Linked DNA regions of Homo sapiens. The protein of the gene in region 1 purifies or fractionates together with the protein of each later gene. This does not show direct contact. Each region holds a gene or a part of one and is shown in the gene's direction. Other genes may lie near its edges.

The links.
Region 2: the proteins of FAM107B (region 1) and MAP9 purify together in Homo sapiens (affinity purification with mass spectrometry; one large-scale study listed by BioGRID and IntAct). This does not show direct contact.
Region 3: the proteins of FAM107B (region 1) and PAGE5 purify together in Homo sapiens (affinity purification with mass spectrometry; one large-scale study listed by BioGRID and IntAct). This does not show direct contact.
Region 4: the proteins of FAM107B (region 1) and ESF1 purify together in Homo sapiens (affinity purification with mass spectrometry; one large-scale study listed by BioGRID and IntAct). This does not show direct contact.

Annotation. Positions count from the first base shown.
Region 1 is NC_000010.11:14,670,311-14,674,016, reverse strand, and holds part of FAM107B (protein FAM107B), read left to right. Parts: intron 1-3,706.
Region 2 is NC_000004.12:155,374,135-155,378,500, reverse strand, and holds the start of MAP9 (microtubule-associated protein 9), read left to right. Parts: upstream 1-1,535; 5' UTR 1,536-1,730; exon of another isoform or gene 1,731-2,125; intron 2,126-2,586; 5' UTR 2,587-2,650; coding exon 2,651-2,725; intron 2,726-3,479; coding exon 3,480-3,564; intron 3,565-4,366. UniProt on the Homo sapiens protein: Involved in organization of the bipolar mitotic spindle. Required for bipolar spindle assembly, mitosis progression and cytokinesis. May act by stabilizing interphase microtubules.
Region 3 is NC_000023.11:55,218,976-55,223,176, forward strand, and holds the start of PAGE5 (P antigen family member 5), read left to right. Parts: upstream 1-1,370; 5' UTR 1,371-1,477; exon of another isoform or gene 1,478-1,624; coding exon of another isoform or gene 1,625-1,676; intron 1,677-2,399; coding exon of another isoform or gene 2,400-2,407; coding exon 2,408-2,488; intron 2,489-2,791; coding exon 2,792-2,900; intron 2,901-3,645; coding exon 3,646-3,771; intron 3,772-4,201.
Region 4 is NC_000020.11:13,716,342-13,719,094, reverse strand, and holds part of ESF1 (ESF1 homolog), read left to right. Parts: intron 1-110; coding exon 111-187; intron 188-1,580; coding exon 1,581-1,727; intron 1,728-2,753. UniProt on the Homo sapiens protein: May constitute a novel regulatory system for basal transcription. Negatively regulates ABT1.

The DNA of each region.
Region 1 (3,706 bases):
AACGCAAATAACTCAACAGCAAACAAACAAAACAAAAAGCAAAAGCAAAAAACAAATAATCTGATTAAAAAATAGGCAAAAGATTGGAATAGGCATTTCTCAAAAGAAGACATACAAATAGCCAAGTATATTAAAAAAATGCTCCACATCACTAATCATCAGGAAAATGCAAATCAAAACCAAAATGAGATATCATCTCACCCCAGTTCAAATGGCGATTATCAAGAAGACAAAAAAATAACAAACGCCGAAAAGGATACGGAGAAAGGGGAACTCCTACAGTACAGCCGTTATGAAAAACAGTATGAAGTTTTCTCCAAAAACTAAAAATAGAACGACCATATGATCCAGCAATCCCACTGCTGGGTATGCATCCAAAGGGAAGGAGATCAGCATGTCAAAGAGATATCTACACTCTCGTGTTTATTGCAGCACTATTCACAATAGCAAAGATACGGAATCAACCTGAGTGTCTATCAACAGATGAAGGGATAAAGAAAATGTGGCACTTATACAATAGAATACTATTCAGACATTTAAAAAAAGAATAAAATCCTTCATTCGCAGCAACATAGATGAGCCTGGAGGACATTATATTAAGTGAAATAAGCCAGACACAGAAAGACAGATACCACATGTTCTGACTCATATGTGAGAGCTGAAAAAGTTGGTATCATGGAAGTGGAGAGGAGAACAGTGGTTACCAGAGGCTGGGAAGGTTAGGGGGAAGGAAAAATAGGGAGAGGTTGGTTAATGAGTACAAAATTACAGCCAGATAGAAGGAATAGTTTCTAGTGTTCTATAGCACTGCAGGGTGACTCTAGTTAACAATAATTTATTGTATATTTTCAAATAGCTAGAAGAACAGATATTGAATGTTCCTAACACAAAGAAATGATGGATGTTTGAGGTGACGGACAGGCTAATTACCCTGCTTTGCTCATTTCACATGTATACATGTATTGAAATATCACATGTACACATAAATATCTATGATTATTATGTGTCCATTTAAAAGAATGGAACCAAGCCTCTTTAATTATTGGTCAGGAATTCTATTTCTGTCTCCAACAAACTACCTTTTTGCTTCTAAACTTGCTGCCCTAGAGTGAAATGTTAACTCCCAATGTTGCCAACTATGAGGCCAAAGGAAAATGACTTGATGTACATTGGTGAATGTATTTGGTTCGTGTTTTTAAGTTTTTTTATTCCTTCCTTCTTTCTTTATTTCTACTAATGTTCAATCAGGTGAACCTTAGGAAAAGAAGCTAATTTGTACCAAAATCTTACCTTGAACTCCCTAAGTATAAACTTAGTGTGGTTTCACATGCCCTTTCAATGAGGCATCTTGGGATTAGTCCTCAAGGAAAATACAGTCATGAGCCATATAATAATGTTTCAGTCAGCAACAGACCCCATATAGAATGGAGGTCCCATCAGGTTATAAACTATCTTTTTACTGTACCTTTTCTATGTTTAGAAACACAAACAAACACATATTCATGTTGTAAAGTGACAACACACGACTGTAAATGAAAAGTCCATTTGTTTGACAAATTTTAATAGTACATTCTTGGTACATCATCGTGGTCACATTTGATTTAATAAGCATTGTAAAACTCATGATGGGGCCGGGCACAGTGGCTCACGCCTGTAATCCCAGCAGTTTGGGAGGCCGAGGCGGGCAGATCAACTGAGGTTAGGAGTTTGAGACCAGCTTGACCAACATGGTGAAATCCCGTCTCCACTAAAATACAAAAATTAGCTGGGCATGGTGGCAGGTGCCTGTAATCCCAGCTGCTCGGGAGGCTGAGGCAGGAGAATCGCTTGAACCTGGAAGGTGGAGGCTGCAGTGAGCCGAGATCACGCCACTGCTGGGCAACAGAGCAAGACTTTGCCTCAAAAAAAAAAATAAATAAATAAAAAATAAAAAGAAAGAAAAAAACTCATGATGGCAGGGGAGGTACAGAACCAATGTACAGAACCAATGCATGCCTGACTCCTGATTTCCCAGAGCTGGAGTTCTTACACTGGTGTATCAGTTAGGACTCATTCTTTTAGAAGTGACAGAAAACCTGATAGGAATCAGTTTGATTTAAAAAGAAATAGAGGGTTTTTTTTTTGTTTTTTTGTTTTTTTTTTTTAAATAAAAGGGAGTGTATTAGCTGCCTTATGCGGAAAAGTCCAGGGTTAATCTTGCTTCAGGCGTGGCTGAATTTGGGGCTTAGTTGATATCAACAGAAGAAAGCATTGGAGCATCTCTTGGCTCTGCCTTCCTTTGTGTGGGCTTCAGTTTCAGCCGCACGTGATAACAAGGTGGTGCCTACAGTAGCAGCTGCAACCCCTGTCTCTGGTTTCAGGGCCAGTGGATAATAAGAACAGGAGTCATTTTCCCAGAAGTCCAGAGAAAAATCTCATTAGGTCTCACTAACCCTGAGTGTGTCACATTCAGACAGCGAGATGGGAGGGGGTCCCCAGAAAACCTCCAACCAGCCTGCCCACTTGGGGTGGAGCCTCGGGAAGCTCGTGCCATTTGCATCAGGGAGGAGCCTGGCCCCTCCTCTTCCTGTGTGTAACCTGGGATTCCAACAGGAAGGGTTGTAGCAGGGACTCTGACCTAGTAAGAGTCCCTGTTTCCCCCTTTTCTTCCTTTTCACCCAATAAAACCCTGTTTTACTCACCATTCAAATTGTTGGCGAGCCTTTTCAAATTGTCTGCAAGCCTTAATTTTCGTGGCCATGGGACAAAGAACTCTGTCTTTAGCTGAACTAAGGAACAGTCCTGGAACAACATAGCCGCTCTACCAATCAGAGGGAAATGCAGCAGACTGATGGGCGTGGGCCTGGGTCATATGTTGCACCCCTGGAGTGGGATGGTGGGGAAGGAGTCGGTTTCACGGAGCACAGAAAACCACAGTTCTTTAAGAGTGGGATGAGATGGGATGAGATGGCTTTAAAGAGGAAATCAGGACACACTTACTAGATAGTGAGTCAGTGAGTACTAGGCAGCAAAATCAACAGATGTCTACTACAGTTGGACTGTTGTCATTTTATTCTAGCTTTGCTGGGAAAAAGCCACTACGAACGCATTCAGCAAATTGCAGACTTGCGCTGAAGAGAAGAGACACAAGAATTGAAGGAGCTCAGCTTCTTTTCTCTAAATAGAACATAGTTTATACTAGTGAGGACAGATGCTTGTTTATTCTGTGCTGAAAGCTCTCCAACCAAGAGCATTTCCAACATCCTTCCCTCTGCAGATTGTTGCGGGACTTTGCAACTCTTACTAGTCAAAGGGAAACCTTAGGGAGGGGCTATTTAAGATGGAGTAATAAATATGTTTGGAGAAGAGCTAAAGGGCTATGTTATTTCACAGTTCTGGAATTCAGAGCAATAAAAAAGTAAACAGTCTTACTGGCTCAAAGGGGAGAGTCTTTTCATCTTGAAAATGACTTTATTTGGATTATTTTGGCCTCTCAAGAGACTTCCCCTGTGGCTGTATTATAAAATAATTCCTCATGTTTTCATTATATACTGTTCTGTCAGGCCTTGTGAAACAAGAAATGACTTACTGCATTTATTTGCTGTGTGATGGGGCTTTTCTGTTATTTACACATTCTTTGGTATACTATTAATTCATACCCACTTCAAATATGTAATTTTGGAGGCAATTTTCATTAAAATTTCTTACAACACATACATTTGAGATA
Region 2 (4,366 bases), on another chromosome or scaffold:
TAGATATTCAGTGAATGTGGGAGAAGGGCCTATATATCTATTGATGACAGAAACTGAGAAATAGAACATAGAATATTGGCTTGTGAGGAGGAAGGGTTTGGAGTAATAGGAGAGCAGTCACTGAGTATGTGAGGACCTAGGAGAACTTAGAAATCTTCCTTCTACAGCAGTCCCTATTTGAAAAGCCCTCAGGGAGATAGTTTATTCAGAAAATAGTTTTGCTTAGCTAAGATAAGAATGCGATTATAGAGGAAAAAGTGAGAGAATGTTTTACAGTGGAAAGGAGGTTCCAGGAGCATGAGGTGAACCTGGAAGGGTTCAACAGTAGTGCCATGAGTTAATAGAAAATAGGGAGCATTTTCTATTCTGGGTATGTGTGTGTAGAGGTGGTGTACATTTTCAGCTTCATAAATGGATACAGATGAGTGGACATATATATATAATATATTATATAATATATATTATATATATAATATATTATATAATATATATAATATAATATATATATACTATTAGTTCTGTCCATCTAGAGAACCCTGATTAATACAGCATTGTATTTTACTAAATTTCTTATTTCTTGTTATGCACATTTAGTTTTTCAATACATTGATTTATTAAATTTCTATCTCAATGTGATTTGTTTATACAAAATTGAATTAGTGAAATATTAACATATTTTAGAGATGTGGAAAAAATACCAGGTATGAGTTTAATTACTAGTCAATGAATTCATTCAGATAATTCAACTAGGATTAAGCTTTTTAAAAATTAAAAATAGTAAAAATTCATATTATTTTAAAGACTTTCAATAAACGTTTTTGGTTTTTATTTGCTTTAAGAATTTCCTATGCGAATTAAATGATGTTGATTTTGTTTACTTTAGTAGCACATGCTCTTTTAGCCTAGTGGATCATTTTGTTTGGTTTGATTGGAATAAGATTACTCACTAAGTATACAAAGAGGGGGAGTTTTACATTCAAGTAAGATGTCAAATGGGCTTTCAGTTGTGTCCACAAGAGCTGAGGTCTCTCCAGGCCCTTTGCGGCTTAGTTGCATGAAGAGCATATCTAATATCGAATACAATTCCAGGCACTCTTCCAAGTGTTCCACTTGTATTATTTCATTCAATTTTACAGCAACCTTTCAGGTGTCTATTATTAGTACACTTTTGTTTTCCCCCAGAAGAAGAAACTGAGTCATAAAGACCTTAACTTGGGACAATCACGTGTGTAGGAAAGGGGTACCAGGATTCAAACCTGCAGTCGGAAACAGGGTTCTGCAAACTCACTACCGTACTATTCTGTCCCATCCACTGACACCGTACTTCGATTCAGAGAACTTCACGTCCTAACTGTGGCAAAACGACGAATGTGCTTTATTTGCAACACGTGCAGATAAGGACCCTTACTCTATTGGCAAGAGTAAGGCTATCTGGGTGGGAGTTGGGCGGGTCCTGTCTCCTAGGCAACAGCACATGCACACAAGCGACCAATAATGAGCCCCTCTCCAAAGACCCAGGAAGGTGATGTCACTTCCTTCGTCTGGGTGGTTGCCCCAGCGACACGTTGGGCCGAAGAGCGGTGTTGGGTACCCGAGAGACCCGGCGGTGGGGAAGTCACTTCCTCCCGAAGACGCTGTTTCCTAGCAACCGCCCTCCGCCTCTGTTATTAGCCCCTCCTCCTCGCTCGGTCCAGGACCGGCTCTGCGGGCGCCGCCAGGCCCAGACCAAGGTGAGCAGCTCCTACCCGATGCTTGGCTCTTGATTCTCAGGGTCGCGGAGAACTGGCCGCGGGCGTCCGGGGCCGGGAACAGAAAGCGGGACCTGGGGGCCATGGGGGATCCGGACAGAGACCGCGCTTGGACGTGCACGGGCCTGGCGTTCGCTGGTGCTCAGCATACGGCGCGGTGAGGAGCGGCGAGCACCCGGACGTCACCTGGCCTGGTAGGGAACGGAACCCGGGGCGCACAACGCTATGGGCGGCCCTGCCAGGCCTCTGCTCCGAGTACGGGAAACCGCGATTTTAATGCGGCTCATCGCGAAAGCTTCGTCGTTTTGTCTGGCTCTCTTTAACACTTTTGTGAGAGGAAAAATTGGCTTGCAATACATCTCGCTGGCTGTTTGCGGGTTAGCATTACGATCTTTTTCTTTGAATAGCGCTGTATGCAAATATATAGATACATTTTTTTTTTGGTGGTGGTGCTCATAATTTTTACGCCGACGATCCTTTTGATGGCCTTTTAAATAAGACGTGACTTATTTTGAAGGCAATGTTATACTTTAGAAGAGAGGTGAAAAATAAGGTGTTCTATTTTAATTGGCAGCATTTTGTCGTATTAACTTGTAATCATTTATTTGCAGACTTTTTAAGTAGTTGCAAAACTATTTTAGGATAACTTCCATTTGAATTTTTTTAAACAAGCTTGTTATGAGAATTTGCTATTTCTTTACAAGAACCTTTTTAAGTGAAGATGTAGCCCAATGTTCATATCAGATGCTTTTCTTTGACCTTTGTGGGGAGAGTAGAATCAAATGTAATAAAATAAATTCTGAAGCATGCGAAGTCTGATTTGTTTTGTATATTTCAGCTACTATCAGAAGTTGAATTCTAATAATTAGCTATTTTATAAAGGTAACGAGAAAAAATACACTATGTCTGATGAAGTTTTTAGCACCACTTTGGCATATACAAAGAGTCCAAAAGTTACCAAAAGAACTACTTTCCAGGTAAAGTATTTTTATTTGGAATCATTTCACAGTGTAAACACTGTATTAGATGGGTTGAAATTGGTGATTCTAGAACAGTCCTATATAAAGCAGGGGTAAATCTTATATTACTTTTGAGGTTTTGCACATGATCATGTTTGGGCTCCATCCAGTATTACAAACTCCCCTATATGGTTTTAAGACTACCAAAGTAGCCTCAATACTAGTTTCCTACTAAGTTAAAAGTTGAATCGCAACCTTAAATTGCCATTTTTATATAAAAACTTTTTTTTCTGTTGTAACATAATGTTTAAGTTTTTTTTTCTGTTGAGTCACTGCAATTTTGAACTCAGCCTCTAAGTTTGCAATATTGATTGCATCCATTTCTGAAATATGCCGAGACAAAAGCTCTTAAAAATACCAATTTCTTTCAAAATACCAGTTTTTAATAAATTATAATCTAAATTGAGCCCCTTCTTATTTGTTACCCTCCAGCTCTAATTATAACCTGCAATTAATTTGTTCCATAATGTGTGTCTCCTCTAGTTAAACTGCGAGCTCCATGAGGAAGGGCTCTTGTCTGTGATGCTCTGCATTGAGTATGAGGCGTAAAGTGGGTACATGGCATAAAGTGAGCTTGCAGGAAATATTTGTTAGATGAATGAAACCTAAGTTTGAAAGCAGTCGTTAATCAAGCATTGTTTGTTTAAAGAATTACTTGTGAATATGATACCTCCATGTTTGGATGGAAATTGATTTCAGTATCTCATTTCAGGATGAGCTAATAAGAGCAATTACAGCTCGCTCAGCCAGACAAAGGAGTTCTGAATACTCAGATGACTTTGACAGTGATGAGATTGGTATGTGACAGTATGGAAACGTGAACCACTTTTCTTCTTTTTGCTTCCTTAGTTTTGTATTTAGCCAGCCCCCCAACCACCCATCCCCTCAATCACGTATGTTAAAATAATACCTAAGCATTCACTAATTTTAGATTTTCAACTTTTTAATTAGTAGAAAGCCACTCTTAATTTTCAGGAAGTTGTATGATTTTCTTTTTTTATTGTTGTTTTGTTTTCTGAATGTGTATACGAAAATATAAATTAATTGATGGCAGGTTTGCAGTAAAAGGATGGCTGCCAGTGGTAAACCACATTGAAGAAGACAGGTTCATCTTTAAGATCAACCCTAGGAGGTGCTACAGCTAGTTAGTAACTAGTCCCACAGAACTAAACTTCGGTGCACATTAGAAGTGCTTTTATAAAGCTTGCTATAAATCAGATTTTTTTTGGCTGTGATAAGGGGTAAATTTAAAAACCACAGACTCTTCGTGTTTCATATATCAGTACTATTATAATTTGGTTTCTCTTAGCTATGTAAACATATTAACATTTTAGTTTCAGGTATAAGCATACAGAATTCTAAACTTGGTGTTTTTGTTTGTTTGTTTTTGTTTTTGAGATGGAGTCTCGCTCAGTTGCTCAAGCTGGAGTGCAGTGGTGCAATCTCGGCTCACTGCAACCTCCACCTCCCAGGTTCAAGTGATTCTCCTCCTTCAGCCTCCTGAGTAGCTGGGACTACAGGTGCCCGCCACCATGCCCGGCTAATTTTTGTATTTTTAGTAGAGATGGGGTTTCACCACATCGGCCAGGCTGGTCTCGA
Region 3 (4,201 bases), on another chromosome or scaffold:
TCTAGGTATAGAATCATATTGTTTGCGAACAGAGATTGTTTGACTTCTATGAAAAACATAGTGAAGTGAAAGCAAACATCTGTCCAGAAGGGAATAGAACAATAAAAATGCCCAATAATAAATTTAATTTGAATGTGAAGAACTAATATGAAGCAAATAACACAGTCATTGTGAGGGATACATAAAAAGACTTGAGGAAATGAGGAGTGGCTTTTTCTTGGATAGAGAAATTCTAAAATAGAAAGATAGATATTGTCCCTAAGTTAAGATGTAATTTAAAAATAATACCTAGTGTCTCACCTGGAATATTTTAGCACCTGATCAAATGATTCTGAAGTTCATCTGAAAGACAAATGTGTCAGAGTAGACAGAAAAGGAAAAAGCAATGAGGGAGGGCAAGCATTATTTCGCATTACAAATATAATTAAGCTACAGCAATTAAAATAGTATACTAGTGGTACAGGTACAAACGACTCAATGGAAGAAAATTAAAATAAGAGAGTTACATACAAAATTGAGTGGGGATGTAGGTGATGATAAAAGAGCCACTTCAAAACAGTGGGTGAAACAGGGATTCAACAAATGATGTAGAGTCCCTACCACTTAATTTTGTTCAGATGGATCAATTTTTTTTTTGTTTGTTTGTTTTGTTTTTTTTTTTTTTTTGAGATGAGGTCTCACTTTGTTGCCCAGGCTGGAGTGCAGTGGCACGATCTCGGCTCACTGCAACTTCCACCTCCCGGGTTCAAGCAATTATCCAGCCTCAGCCTCCCGAGTAGCTGAGACTACAGGCGCGTGCCACTATGCCCGGCTAATTTTTTGAATTTTTAGTAGAGATGGGGTTTCACCATGTTAGCCAGGATGATCTCGATCTACTGACCTCGTGATCTGCCCGCTTGGGCCTCCCAAAGGGCTGGGATTACAGGCGTGAGCCACTGCGCCTGGCCCGGATCAATGATTTTGAATGTACAATCATGCAACAAAAACTATGAATGTCTTATCATATTGGAGTGGGTAAGATCATTGCAAGCATGACAGCAGACTCGCGAAGGCACAAGAAAATGATTTATGAAAGCAGATATAAAATGGGTATTAACATATATAATATTTATTTCTATGATGGCGAATTTGTCCGAAACACATTGTTTTCTTAGAGTAACCTGGGCCTCATATTCTCCAACGCCATTGGAAGTGAAAGGAAGGTTGGGCGGGGGAAAAAGAAAAGTGCTTTGTAAGTTCATTTTCGTTGTCAGAAGAGCTTGTGGTTTAGGTTCTCCACAGAGGCAGGAAACCTTCAGTCACGTGGCAAATACCCCACTGAGTGCGCATGCTGCACAGATCTGTTGCTGCGCATGCGCCTTTCTGCCCACCTTCTGTCTAGGCAGAGCTCTGCAAGGAGAGGTTGTGTCTTCGTTCTTTCCGCCATCTTCGTTCTTTCCAACATCTTCGTTCTTTCTCACTGACCGAGACTCAGCCGGTAGGTCTGCAGAGTGGTCTTCCTGGTAATTTAGTTGTGAGTGAATGTGTGGAGGAGCCAGCGGGCTTAGGACAGGTCCCGTGGCACAGTCCGTGGCTTTGAGGGAAAAGGGCCTCGCGGTGGTCCTCCGCCTTCCCCCAGGTCCTGATGCAGGCGCCATGGGCCGGTAATCGTGGCTGGGCTGGAACGAGGGAGGAAGGTAGGCCGTGGAGGGGGTAGATCGCCTGAAGATGGTGCGAGTCCTGGGGGTGGGTGCTGTTAGAGGTGTCTGAGTCCCGAAAACGCCTGGAACTCTCTGAGGGAGGACAGTTTCTGGACTCTTCGTTAGGGATGCGAGAAGGGATGGTGTGGGTGGTAAGGAAGGGGCCAGGAAACTGGGAACGCTGTGGGCTGGTGACTACGGCCCCGAGGTCTGTAGAGTGCCTGGCAGAGGTGTCCAGTGAGGAACATAACCTTAACTCTGTGTCGCAACTTCTCATCTCAGCCATGGACCTCATGGAAAGGAATGGTTGAGGCTGTGCATTCCAACAAAACTTGATTTTTCGGGGAGTGGGGAGGAGGTGGTGGTGGCCCTAGTATATCAGAGTGGGAGGAAAGCAGCAGTCACTTCAGTTTCAATTTTCTGCCCGTTTTTTTCCTAAATGTGTAAATGATGGAGAGTCTAATTGTGAAGCCAAAACTCAGAAAAGTCCTCTGTCTTTTGCTATGGCGTTAAGGTGTTTTCTGTGCCTCTTCGACTATGATACAAACAAATCTGTCCTTAGTTTGATTGGAAAGCATGCGTACTTATCAATGCTCTGTGACTTAGTTTGAAAATATTTTCAAAATTAAAAAAGTACAAATCACCATTTTGCCATGGAATGTTCATATATATAGCTAAGTTCTTACACACTTTTTCCAAATAACAATATTTTGTTTTCAGTGAGAGATATGAGTGAGCATGTAACAAGATCCCAATCCTCAGAAAGAGGAAATGACCAAGAGTCTTCCCAGCCAGTTGGACCTGTGATTGTGAGTCCTTTAGCATTTGATGTTTTCTATTAACACATTTTATTTTAAAAAATATTTTTGAGCGAGTGTACATGCACTGATACAGGTGTTCCATGCTAATAAAAAATGATGATGGCATCTCATGAAGGCAACTTTGGTTCAGGAATATTATATTCTGGTGTTGCCTTATGGATATGGATATTTTACTCTCTCTCTATATATATATCTATTGGAAAATGTCTTTAGATTTATGATTCGATGCACATATGCATTTGTGTGTTTATATTATTGACTTTTTATTCGCACACACACTTACACCCTTAGGTCCAGCAGCCCACTGAGGAAAAACGTCAAGAAGAGGAACCACCAACTGATAATCAGGGTATTGCACCTAGTGGGGAGATCAAAAATGAAGGAGCACCTGCTGTTCAAGGTGAAGGGAGAGTGGAGAATAATGCTTATGGGTGGTGGAGGTCTATTTATGCATTATATTTTGTGACATACCAGTAACAGGAGGACAGAAAACATTAGGAAGGAATCTTAAACATTTCTTACTGCTGCTGTGCGGAGGGGTGGGACAAGGACACATAAAAAGCCACAAACTTTCCTACCATTTTGACGGAGGCTTTTTATTGATTGGGTATTTGCATGGTTGCCGTAAACCTTTGAGTGTTTTCCAGAGTTCCTGTATGGTTTGTTCAGCTATTTTCTGTTTTTTGTTTTGTTTTGTTTTGTTTTATGCTTCTGTGGAAGAATGGCAGCTTGCAGCTTCCTAGTCTGCCATCTGCGGACATCTCTCATGTATTTTTATAAGATACTTTTTAACACATTTATTAATGCTTCCTCATGCTGTGTAATATACTAAGCGCCGGAGATGTCAGTGCCAAATTTTTGCCTAAAGCTCATAGTCTAGTCAGACTGACTCAAACAAATCACTGATTTAATGTGATAAGAATAAGAACAAATGAGTACAAAAGGAACAAGTAAGTTGTCTAGGGCCAGCCTTGGGAAAGGAAAGGGCAATGTTTGAACATTTCTGCTTTCCTGCTTTTCTGGCAACAGACTTCTGAAATAATTAGCCTACAGGTTTTTATTTCACAATGATGAGGGAATAAATATTATTACCTCGTTCATAGTTCATATTTTAATTCGTAAATTGACGACTTTTTATCTTTAAGGGACTGATGTGGAAGCTTTTCAACAGGAACTGGCTCTGCTTAAGATAGAGGATGCACCTGGAGATGGTCCTGATGTCAGGGAGGGGACTCTGCCCACTTTTGATCCCACTAAAGTGCTGGAAGCAGGTATGTTATTCAATAAGATGCAAATTATAGGGTTTCTATTTTCACAATATTGTATTTTGTGTGACACAGAGGTAAAATTACTGCTACTTTAATATCATACTTCACATCTAAAGATTCTTTGAAGGTAGTTCAGACCCCAAATGGCTGCCTTACACACTATCAGAGATAGAAGGCCAGGTGTGGTGGCTCATGCTGTTAATTCCAGCACTTTGGGAAGCCGAGGCAGAAAGACCACTTGAGGCCAGAACTTCAAGAGATAGAATAAATTGGGTCAAAGCTAATTGAGTTACGATATGAAAGATATGAAACATGCTAAGAGAGTAGATTTTGAGTGTCTTCACAGCTATATGAAATAATGCATATATTAATTAGGTTGAGCCGTTTTACAATGTATGTATATTTTAAAACATCATGTTTTACATGATAAATA
Region 4 (2,753 bases), on another chromosome or scaffold:
TTATTGTTAAGATTATTCCTAGATATCTTATATTTTTGTTCCTAGTATAAACAGAATGTTGCTGATAGTCCTGTAATTTTTACCACTCTTATGTTGGTTTGTTGTGCCAGGTATAAATAAAAAATCGGTAAAATCTGCAAAAGATGGCACATCTCCAGAAGAAGAAATTGAAATAGAAAGACAAAAGGTAAAATACGATTATTGTTACATGCTTAGTGGATAATTCATAGGTACAATTTAAATGAAGTTGTACATGTCACTAATTTTAAAAAACAACTTATTTTAGCAGTGGCATTTATAACTAAATTGTAAGAGACATAATTAAATATTTTAGCAGTGTAGTTTCTAAATACAGTGTTTTTTTTACCAAACATAATTTCTCCAAATTGTACAAAGTTAAAATTAACCTCAAATTCAAGGGTATTTATTTTCTTTTATAAATTAAGAGGGAATTATCTCACTTTTAAAAACACTTACTATACCTGAGGCAGAAAATACCCTTAAAACCTCAAAATAATATTGCCATAAGTTTTAATTCAATCTGAATCTGTCCTGGAATACAGTTTGTGGTTATGGTTTGTCAAATGCAAATTTCTGTTTTTCTTATTGTGAATATGTATATTTAACGTACAAAATTACATTCTTGGAAATGCAGTGAACCTTATGCTTCAGTGACCCCCTATGTCCAGAGTCACACGTAATTTTGGCACAGAGTCATATGTGATTTTGCTGAGGCAGGAATTGAAGGCAGCAGTGCCCCTAGGGCTGATGTTCATGTCACTGTCCAGAAGTGTGCCTGACTGGCCACATAAAGTTATCTAAAGAGCAACAAAGAAAATCAATTTTTATGGAAAATGTCTCTGAAAAGCCAGCTAAAAGTGCCAGTGACAAAAGGAAATTAAGGCAGTCTAAAGTGGTAATATAGGAAGATCCACAAAGGTCGAGAGCATACTCTGTATTTTTACTAGTGTACATGGTTATTTACTTGATTCTTGAGGGTTCTCGTTTAATCCCATGGCTGGTAGAAAATACCCGTTTAGTGTAAAAAGACATTTACTAGATTTCAGAAGCAGATCCTAAGGTCCTACCTTCATAGAAATGTATCAGTATTGAAACAGTAAAGGCCAAAAAAAAAAAAGCAAAAAAAAAACTTACTTGTTAAAAGTTACACATTTAGAAAGTATAATTTGCATCACAAAATAAACATTTGCTAGATTTAGCATCATTGCGCAAAAAGAACAAAGTGAAAATGAGAACTTTTTATTTGAGGGTAGTTGGGGACTCTTGTTCCTGCAGCCTACTAATGAGTCACACTAAGTGAAATGGGGCCTGGTTTTTAACTACAAGGTTTTACCTCTCCTGCTCTCAGTAATGTTGCTTCCAGAGATTCTACCTTATTGCTATACAAAGATCTCTTTGTTTTGGTAATCCACAGTCAGTTTACAGACAACAGGTGGTACCCCAGAGTTCTAGTGATTGAGTCTTCCTTTCTAGAAGAGATATCTTCTGCCCTATACTCCTTTTTGGGGGTGGAAAAAAAAGCACTGTTGTACATTTGAACTTTTTTTTGCTCTCTACAGGCTGAAATGGCTTTGCTTATGATGGATGAGGACGAGGACAGTAAGAAACACTTCAATTACAACAAGATTGTGGAGCACCAGAATCTGAGCAAAAAGAAGAAAAAGCAGCTCATGAAAAAGAAGGAATTAATAGAGGATGACTTTGAGGTAACCATAGACACCAGGCATAGCCTCTTAAAGCTGGAATTGAATCTAAAGTCAGCTCTGCAGATAGAAATTGAGCATAGTCAAAGTTACCCTTGAAAATGTCTTAGGGGCCCGGTGCAGTGGCTCACGCCTATAATCCCAACACTTTTTTGGAGGCCGAGGCATGAGGATCACTTGAGTCCAGGAGTTGGAGACCAGCCTGGGCAACATAGTGGGACCCTCATCTCTATGAAAAATAAAAAAAATTAGCTGGCTGGGCGTGGTGGCTCATGCCTGTAATCTCAGCACTTTGGGAGGCTGATGTGGGCAGATCACGAGGTCAGGAGGTCAAGACCATCCTGGCTAACACGGTGAAACCCCATCTCTACTAAAAATACAAAAAATTAGCCAGGCGTGGTGGCGGGCACCTGTAGTCACAGCTACTCAGGAGGCTGAGGCAGGAGAATGGCGTGAACCCAGGAGGCGGAGCTTGCAGTGAGCCGAGATCTCGCCACTGCACTCCAGCCCAGGTGACAGAGCAAGACTCTGTCTAAAAAAAAAAAAAAAAAAAAAAAAAAAAAAAATCCAGGTATAGTGGCGCACACCTGTAGTCCCAGCTACTCAGGAGGCTGAGGTGGGAGGATCGCTTGAGTCCAGGAGGTCAAGCCTGCAGTGAGCCATGATTGTGGCACTGCACTCCAGCCTGGGCAACAGAACAAGACCCTGTCTCAAAAAAAAAAAAAAAAGAAAAAAAAAGAAAATGTCTTCAGAAAGACTGATGGTGGAGCCAAAGGCTACTGTCTTTTAATCCAGCACAGCCAGTTCATCCTAGGGTGGATGAAATCATTGTTTCTTTGGTTGAGCACCAGGTGAAATAGTTGACTTGTATTTTGGTAGCCATATTGTACCAAAAATGTGTAGTTTTTAATGTTAGAATCACATGTAGTGATCCTCAGACCAGCAAAGGTATGCTTGAATAGCAGGTTCATGTCACAGTGGGTCACACTCACTGTGTGCAGTGGCCAGCGCAGTAAGCCATGTTTTTTC